2 separate regions of the Homo sapiens genome follow, and region 1 is linked to region 2. The links come from fine-mapping of genetic effects on gene expression. A gene starts in region 2. The other region holds a variant in brackets. All regions are shown on one strand. Distances are from middle to middle.

What was found. PIP is the estimated chance that this variant, and not a neighbour inherited with it, causes the effect.
Region 1: its variant is fine-mapped to the expression of ZNF609 in tibial nerve (GTEx, PIP above 0.99). The same link has a PIP of 0.9 or more in aorta, lung, subcutaneous fat and thyroid.

Annotation. Positions count from the first base shown.
Region 1 is chr15:64,678,889-64,683,252 of GRCh38, forward strand. It overlaps ZNF609 (zinc finger protein 609), which reads left to right. Exons shown (of 10, transcript NM_015042.2): 7 at 1,297-1,472; 8 at 1,758-1,974; 9 at 2,421-2,499; 10 at 2,804-4,364. The coding sequence ends at 2,494. Among named protein-coding and RNA genes, the nearest start is that of OAZ2, 22 kb to the right of the region's middle. The variant G/A (reference allele first, on the strand shown) is at 2,524.
Region 2 is chr15:64,458,233-64,462,616 of GRCh38, forward strand. ZNF609 (zinc finger protein 609) reads left to right here and starts at 2,346. Exons shown (of 10, transcript NM_015042.2): 1 at 2,346-2,606. LOC105370861 (a long non-coding RNA gene) reads right to left here and starts at 2,355. Exons shown (of 3, transcript XR_932367.3): 1 at 2,267-2,355. RefSeq lists an enhancer at 1,868-1,937 and silencers at 2,398-2,517, 2,578-2,677.

The sequences.
Region 1 (4,364 bases), 220 kb after region 2:
ACAGCTTAATCATAGTGGAGAGACACAAAGAACAAATAAAATGCAAACCATAACAATGCATGGATTCAGTTGCCAGATCATGTTCACCTGTCAAGTAAGAAGAGCCATCTGAAGTCAGACTGGGGGGAGGTCCTGCTAGATTCAGCTTGGAAAAGACAAGCTCTTTATAGTGTTTAAATGTTTTTTGTTTGTTTGTTTTTTGAGACGGAATTTCACTCTTGTTGCACAGGCTAGAGTGCAGTGGCGTGATCTCGGCTCACCACAGCCTCCACCTCCTGGGTTCAAACGATTCTCCTGCCTCAGCTTCCCAAGTAGCTAGGATTACAGGCATGTGCCACCACTCCTGGCTAATTTTGTATTTTTAGTAGAGACGGTGTTCTTCCGTGTTGGTCAGGCTGGTCTTGAACTCCCGACCTCAGGTGATCCGGCTGCCTTGGCCTCCCAAAGTGCTGAGATACAGGCATGAGCCACCGCTCCGGCCTTAAATGTTTTTTAACTTGTTAGAAGAAAATGCTCTTATTTAACTCTACTCGTTTTGTTGCCCAAAGAACCATGTGGGGTGCTTCTGGGGTGGAAGGGCACTGCTTTAGCCTCACTCCTTAGAGCCTCCAGCTTCCTACAGCAGCCTAAATAGTCTCAACATTCTGGTGACATTATTATAAAGCACACTCTAAATAGAAATAAGCTTTTCAAACAGAAATAGGAAATTTCTTACCCTTGAGGTGTTCCTTTATCCCTGTCACTCACACCCATCAATATAAAAATCATAGTTGCATTTGTTGAGTGCTCGCCCTGAGCCAGGCGCTGTCCTCTGAGATTTATAGACATTATCTTTTTTAATCCTCCCTATCACCTTAAGTAATAAGTATTGATATCTTCATTTTTGATGATGAAGAAACTGAAGCTCAAAACAGTTATTTATTTGCTCAAGGTTACCAAGCTAGTAAGTCTCAGAGTAAGGTTTTGAGCCCAAGGCTCTGACTCCAGATAAGTGTGATCTTTCCACTTTATCATATCACTTCTCCAAGATGAATCTGAGACCAGTTCAAAGAACAGTATCAGATCTATGGAAGTTGGAAGCAGGAAACAGGGCCATGTTCCTAATATCCCTTAGCTAATTTTTCCTGTAGAGCTCAGTAAAGAAAGGTCAAGCCAACAGTCTCAGCCAAAGACACTATGTTAGAAAATACCTCAGCCTGTGCCTAGGAAAGCTGATGCCCACCCAATCAAGCTCACTAAAGCAGAGTTTCCTCTACCTCTCCCATCTCTTTGACTGTTTGATTTCTCCTTCCACAGGTTCCTACCTGCCTTCCAGCTACTCTTTTTCCCCATATGGCAGCAAGGTCTCAGGTGGTGAAGATGCTGACAAGGCACGAGCCAGCCCCAGTGTGACTTGTAAATCCAGCTCAGAGTCCAAAGCCCTGGACATCTTGCAGCAGCATGCCAGTCACTACAAGAGCAAGTCTCCCACGGTAAGAAAAGTACAGTGATGCTGGCTGTTACCCAAAGACTAGTAAGGCCAGATCCAGGGTCTGGGAGAAGGTGGGCAAGTTCAGGTCCTGACCACAGTGCAGCTTGGCTGACTTGACACTGGCAGCCCCCAGGGCATCTTCTTTATTCTTAGGTATCTTGCACTTTTAGGGGTCATAAGGTGGCACCCTGGGCATCTCACTTGTGTGTGTGTGTGTGTGTGTGTGTGTGGTTGTATGCATATGTGTCTCACTATAGTGCTTTTGTGTCTCTGGTTTCCTTTCCAGATAAGTGATAAAACTTCTCAGGAGAGAGATCGAGGAGGCTGTGGGGTGGTTGGGGGTGGTGGCAGCTGTAGCAGCGTCGGGGGAGCAAGTGGGGGTGAACGGAGTGTTGACCGGCCCCGCACCTCTCCTTCCCAGCGCCTGATGTCCACACACCACCACCACCACCACTTGGGGTACTCATTGCTCCCAGCACAGTACAACTTACCCTATGCAGCAGGTAAGCCTGTTTTCCCTACCACCTGTTGTTTTGTCTTGTTTTGTTTTGTTTATCTTCATCCCAGTAGTAATGTCCACAGCTAGGACCCTCCTACCTGCCTCATAAGAATCCTTTTTTAATTTTTTTTTTTTGAGCTTCTAATCTGTGCACAGTCCTAACCTCCTGCAGTCATTAAAGCATATGATATTTATTCCTCCCTTGGAGTTTGGGGACTCTTAAATTCCTCCAGAATACTGGCCTTGATAGTCAGAAGAATATGGAACAGGTGTTCCCCAAAGGCAAAGAGAAACAATCAGCTGAGAAATAGAGCCTTATTATCTATCTCCAGCAAATATATCTGGCTGAGTATCAGATTTTTTTTTCTGTCAGCACCCCAAAACTCAGGGAAAAAGATTAATGGAAGGTTTCTGTGAGTGCTACACTAACATGTTCTCCTGCTTATTCAGGGCTTTCTTCTACAGCCATTGTTGCCAGCCAACAAGGCTCAACTCCCTCACTCTACCCACCCCCCAGGAGGTGAGAATGGTAAGTCACTTTTATTAATTTGGG[G/A]CAACACATAAAGCCGGGATAGTTGCTACCTGGATCACAGAATCCCTAGGTGAGAAATAGCTATGAGGGGTCAGCAGTCTGGAATCCATGGAACCCTGGCCAAGCCTCTTGTACAAGAGTCTCCCGTGAAGCCATGTGCATCTGAGAGGACCTGTGGAACACAGTGTCCCCTAGGGACCAGTACTGGCCACTCCTACAATTCATTTTCTTGGAGTGCCACCTTGTGGTTTTTTTACCAACAGGCTGAGTGCCTGGTTATCTGTCCATGTTTCCCTTGCAGACACCAAGTGCCCGGATAAAGTCAGCTTCACGGGCCCGGACTGGCTTACCCAAGGAGGTGCTGAAGGTGCCGTTTAGACATCAGTTAAATGGTGTTGATCATCCTGTTTGCCGTTTCCACCATGACTGAAGGCAGACCCTTGGCTATCTCACCTCCACCAGACCTCCGGACTACCTGACCCTACCTCTTCCTCAGGAGCTGGAGAGCTGGTACTTAGCAAAAATATTTATTCTCTCAGCCACAGTTATGACTATTGTGGCCTCTGTGGAGATGAAGGCACGGGAAGCAACCAGGGGAACATGGCCTCAGCCCAGAGAAGCCACTGCTCTGTTCCCCAAGCCCTTGGTCTGCTGCTGGAGCAGTACCAGCCCCCCCGCCCACCAGGGAGGGACCCCCACCCCCAAGCACTGGGTAAGGTCTGAAGACAGCACAGCAGCCATACCCCTCACCATCATTACCACCATCACCAGATTCTGCATCTCCCTAGTGCTTTGCACCCTGGGAATTGGCAGCATGTGGAGGAACTAGAATCTCAGGAAAGAAATTGGGGGTTGTTTTCTACATAATTGTGAAAACAAGGTCTTCAAATGTGGAGACTTCTCCCCATTTACATGAGCACATATAAACGCTCACAACCTAGCCTGGAAAGGAAGACCAAGGCATCTGCCCCAACATGGCCTTGAGCTGCCTGTGAGGCAGGGGGCAGGGGTTCCAACACCAGCACAGGGCTCCCCAGGGACACTGGGAGCAAGCTGGTGCTGGAGCATGAATGACGTCTGTGAAGTAGAACCTGCGTCCCCACTAAGTCCTGCTGCTTCTTATTCCCCAACTCCTTGCCCTTTTCCCTTCCCTCCTAACCCCTTGGTGCCTTTCCCAGGGGGATCCCCACACTGGTCTTGCCTCTTCTTTTCCACTGCTTGGCTCTTAAGCCTCAGGCAGATAAACTAGTATTCCCCCCAGCTTGGGGAACCTTGGAGTCTGCCAGGTCACCTTAGGGCAAGGCCCAGAAGGCAGCCCCTGGGAGCACCCAGCAGTTCTTGGAGATGTCCTGTCATCTAGCCATCTGATATCTTCCTCATTTGAGGCCACAGATATATACAGCCCAATTCCTCTGTCTACAAGTACATGATTTTATATAGCTCAGTCTATAACCTCCATGTGGGCCAATATAAGCTGTGTTTCTTGGTAACACATATTTTGTTTGAGGGGCCACTGGCCATGGGAGGTTATTTGTTCCTTAGACCCTGGAATAACACATCCAAGCCATTACTTATTAGAGTCTCAGAATGTACTCAGTGGAGCTGTGCTTTGAGGCAGCCAACATTTCTCTGCTCTCCTTAGAAATGCAGTCTCCCAATGGAAGCTTTATACTCTTTGTACTGGGAAAGTGAGGATGATTTGGTAGCTTTATTGGGGTCATGTCTTCCCCAAGGTGTGGGGAGCTTAGCTTACTTGGCTTTTGAGGTATCATCCCTCTGTTCTCCCCTCCTATCTTTCCATGACCCTCTGGATTGAGAGAGAGAGATAAAGACTGACAGACACCAGTGTAGGCTGGAAAAGG
Region 2 (4,384 bases):
ACATCAGTACAGAAGATTTAAGAGTCTAGAGCTGTACTGTCTATTATGGTAGCCACTAGCCACTTGTGGTTATGAAAATCTCAATTATATGAAATTAAGGATTCAGTTATTCAGTCACTGTTGACCATATTTCAAGTGCTCAAATAGCTACATGTGGCTAGCGACTTCTGCATTGGACAGCACAGATATAGAACATTTCCATCGCTGCAAAAAGTTCTGTTGGATAGTGCTTGTCTGGAGCAGGGGTTGGCAAACTTTCTGTAAAGGGTCAGATAGCAAATATTTTAGGCTTTACACAGGCCATGCAGTCCTTGTTTCAACTGTTCAACTCTGCTGTTGTAGTAAAAATGCATCTATAGATGATAATGTAAATGAATGAGCTTGGCTAGAGCCAATAAAACTATTTTTTTGTTTGTATTTTAAGACAGTTTCATTCTTGTTGCCCAGGCTGGAGTGCAGTGGCAAGATTTCGGCTCATTGCAACCTCCGCCTCCCGGGTTCAAGCGATTCTCCTGCCTCAGCCTCTCAAGTAGCTGGGATTACAAGCATGTACCACCACGCCCGGCTACTTTTGTATTTTTACGGGGTTTCTCCATGTTGGTCAGCCTGGTCTCGAATTCCCGACCTCACGTGATCCGCCCGCCTCAGCCTCCCAAAGTGCTGAGATTACAGGCGTGAGCCACCGCACCTGGCCTGAAATTTGAATTTCATATCATTTTCACATCATGAAATAGTATTTTGATTATTTAACTGTTTAAAAATGTAAAAATCATTCTAGCTCATGGGACATGTTAAAACAGGTGGTGAGCCTGATTTGACCTGTGAGATGCAGTTTGCCAACCCTTGGTCTAGAGGAACAGTAAATCAAAACTTAAGGTTTGTTTACTATGTGGGACATCTGATCACTTGAAAATTTTTAGTGGTTCTTCGAGGCTTGAGAACTTTCTCTGGCTGAAACTTGGAGTTCACTGCAGGAATGTTTACCTTCCTTTGTTCCCTATTTTTGCAGTCTAGTTCTCTCCAATGGCAGAGTCATGCTCCTTCAGTGGGAGATGACTACTGGAATGTTTAATCCTTAATTAAATCATGCCTAAGTCTAAAACACTAAACCCTTCTCTGTCTCCACCTGCTAAGTAGCTGAATCCTCACTTGTAACTTTGTCTAGTATACATTGGAAGTTCGCTGTCACCTGGGATCAGTTCTGCCCCTGTACTGTCTAACAACATGACTATTGGTGGACCAAAGAGAGATTATTTTTCCTAGACCAGAAAGGTTTACTTTTATCTTTAGCTATCAACCCCTCCCCCCACCTTTTTATGACCTCACTTTATCTCCAAGTCACATGCTATCTTGAGTGGCACTGTTGAAGGATGCCCCAGGATAAGGGAAAAAAGGTAAGATAAATGCAAAGCAAAATAAAATGGTCAAGGACACAGGAAGGACATAATAGGGGCTAGGATGTGGGAGGCCTTGAGAATTAAGGTAAATTTGTTTGCTATGGAATGAGATGGAAGTCTTAGGAGGTCGTCATGAATAGATGTTTCACAAGTGAAAGCTGGGTGGGAGGGCTCACTTAAACATGGACTGAATGCCTACTGTGCACTAGATAGTATGCTGGGCAATCAGAGATGAATAGCAGATAAGGAAAAATAAAAGCTACAATCCTTAGAATGGTGGGTTGGAGAAGGACAGAATAAGGTTTTTAGATAATAAAAGGCAACAAGATTTAGTGATAGAGGATGGTGAGGGGAAAAGGGATATATAGAGGGATTAGAAATGGGTGCTTTGGGGAGAAAAGCAAGTGGTAATCCTAAAAGAGAAAGCTGGAGAACAAAGGATAAAAAATTAGGAGGTTGGTACTTTGCTGAACTAAGGGGTAAAATGGATGAAACCATCAGGAGCTGTGATTGCTCTTCTGTTCTTTGTGGATGCCCATGTTCAGATCCCCTACGGCCCTTTCCTCTCTGTGGTTGAAGGACAACTACAGAAGAGGTGTCTTCTGTGTTATAAGGTGCAATACTCCCCCCAGAGACCTCTCTATGAGGAAGTCTGATCCAGCGAGAGTTCTACTGCCCACGAGGGGACAGCGTTAGGTTCGAGCTCTCTAATCCAGGTTTCTTTGAGTTTATCTTGGTTCTAACCGGCACGCCGGGTTTTCCAGCATTCCCTGAGCTAAGACTCCCTAATCTGGGCTCCGGGTGAGCGCGCATTCCGAGACCCAGGATTTCGCTCCTTCATCCAGGTTCCGGGTTTCCCCTGCGCTCACCGGCTCCAGACTCCACACAAGCGCGGAATCCGGATCCGAGGGCCTGGCAGTCCAGTGTCCGCGTCTTCCGGGTGACTCTGGTTGTCCCGGATCGCGGCGGCGGCGGCGGTGGCGGCGGCTGAGGGACCCGCGGCCCCGGACACAGCGGCACCGGCCGGGCGGGGCGGAGAGGCGCGGGGAGGGGGCAGAGAGCCAGAGCCGGAGCCGGAGCCGGAGCCGGGGTGGGGTGGGGGGGAGGGGCCGCGGGAACGGATGGCGGCCTGGGCCCCGTAGCAGCGGCGGCTCTACGGCCCGGGGCCCCGGGCGGGCGGAGGTGGCGGCTCCCGGGACCGGCCGCGCGGTGAGTCCGGAGCTTTGTGTGGAGCCGGGACTGGGGGAGGAAAGAGGCGGCGGCACCGATGGGGCGCGGGGCTGAGGGGATCTGATGGGGGCCGGGGGCGGCGGCGCTGCCTGACGGAGGAAGTGGGGGTTGGGGGGGCTGGGGCGGAGCGAGGGGAAGGTGTGTAGGGGGGGTCGTTGCGTGGGTGGGGGAGGGGGCGTCGAGGGGCGCGGGGTGAAGTTCAAAGCGTGGCCACGGCCGGTTCAGGCTGAGGGTAGGGGTGCCCGGGAGGGGATTAGGGTCTGGCTAGGTTATGGGAGCAGGCCAGAGAGTTTCTGAGGCGAGTCTGGGTATGTTGAGGGCGCTCGGGGCGACTGGGGCCAGTCAGGGAGTTGGCGGGGGAGGGGGGGCGGGGGCGGTGGTGGTTGTTCAGAGCATAGGGTCGGAAGCAGGACGTGTGCGTGACCTAGGAGTGGGGAGCAAGGTGGCTGGGATCCTGCAGTAAGTAGGTTGTGGGTGTGTGCCCCTAACAGTCTTCAGGTCACATTTACTCCTGTCCTTTTCTTCAAGATGGAGGGATCCCTGGGCCTGGACCTCAACTGCTATCCTTGTACCCCCGGGAGGGTTTGTGACCCTATCCTGTTTGGAAAACCCATGCTGCCCTCTTTTCCCTTTATGTGTAATTACGGTTGGATCATCTCTGTGCTTTGCTCAGATTCTCCTTCCTCCCTCTGGGGTTGAGGAGGAGGAGACACATCTGACCAATTAATGTGTGTTTGTGAAACAGGCAGCAGCAAACAGTCATTTCAGCTTCGAGGAATTAGGCTCACACAGGGTGGAGAGATCAGAGCCCTTCAGGGGGAATATTTCTGAACAAATCACGGATGATTAAATTCTCTAAGAAACAGCTCCCTACCTAAATGAGAGTGAGAAAGATAGGGAAGAAAGCCTGTCTGTTTCCAGCCATGTGTCCAGAGCCTAAGGGGTTGAGGAGAGTCCCCAAGCCCCTACAGGCCTCCCTTTTCTGTATTAGGCTTTGCTCTGCAGCCTTGAGTTAATTTCACCCCTGCTGCTTTGTCTTGGGGGAGGGAGTGCTGGTTTAGGCTGTTGTGAGGAGATGACTGTTCTGCTGCCACACACAATAGTCGTGTCATTTTATCGGGAGCGCTACCCCAGGGCTGAGAACTGCTGCAGCAGAGATAAACCGGTCCCTCTCACCCGCCTATTGTGTACACAGTGAAGGTCATAGGTTCAAGTCTTGTCTGAGAGCTTTGGATATGCTCCATCTCCCAGGCTCCTCAGTGCCATTTTCTTCCTTTTCCAGACTGGGGCTTGCCATTGGAGGAGGCCAGAGAGAAAGGCTCTTCTTTTTGAGTGAGGAACAATGCAGAGCTCATTGGCACACATTTTTCAGAAGAATAAGGGATGCCAGCCATGTTGTGCCTGCCTCTTTGGCTAGCCTGTACTAAGTTGTGAAGGAATAGTGTCTGGTAGACTCAACTACGATGTTTGTTTCAGACCCTTAAGGAAGAAGACTTCAAGGGAAGGTTCTACTCTTAGTTGAATCATCATATTTAATTCTTTTATATGAATGGAACACTCATGCAGTGATTTTTGTTTGTTTCCGAATACCACTAAAAACCTGTGCAGTGTTAAGATGGGGAGTCAAGCCCAGGTGTGGTGGCTCATGCTTGTAATCTTGGCACTTTGGGAGAATGAAGCCAGAGGATGGCTGGAGCCCAGGAGTTTAAGACCAGCCTGGGCAACAAAGCAAGACCCTGTTTCTTTAAAAATAAAAA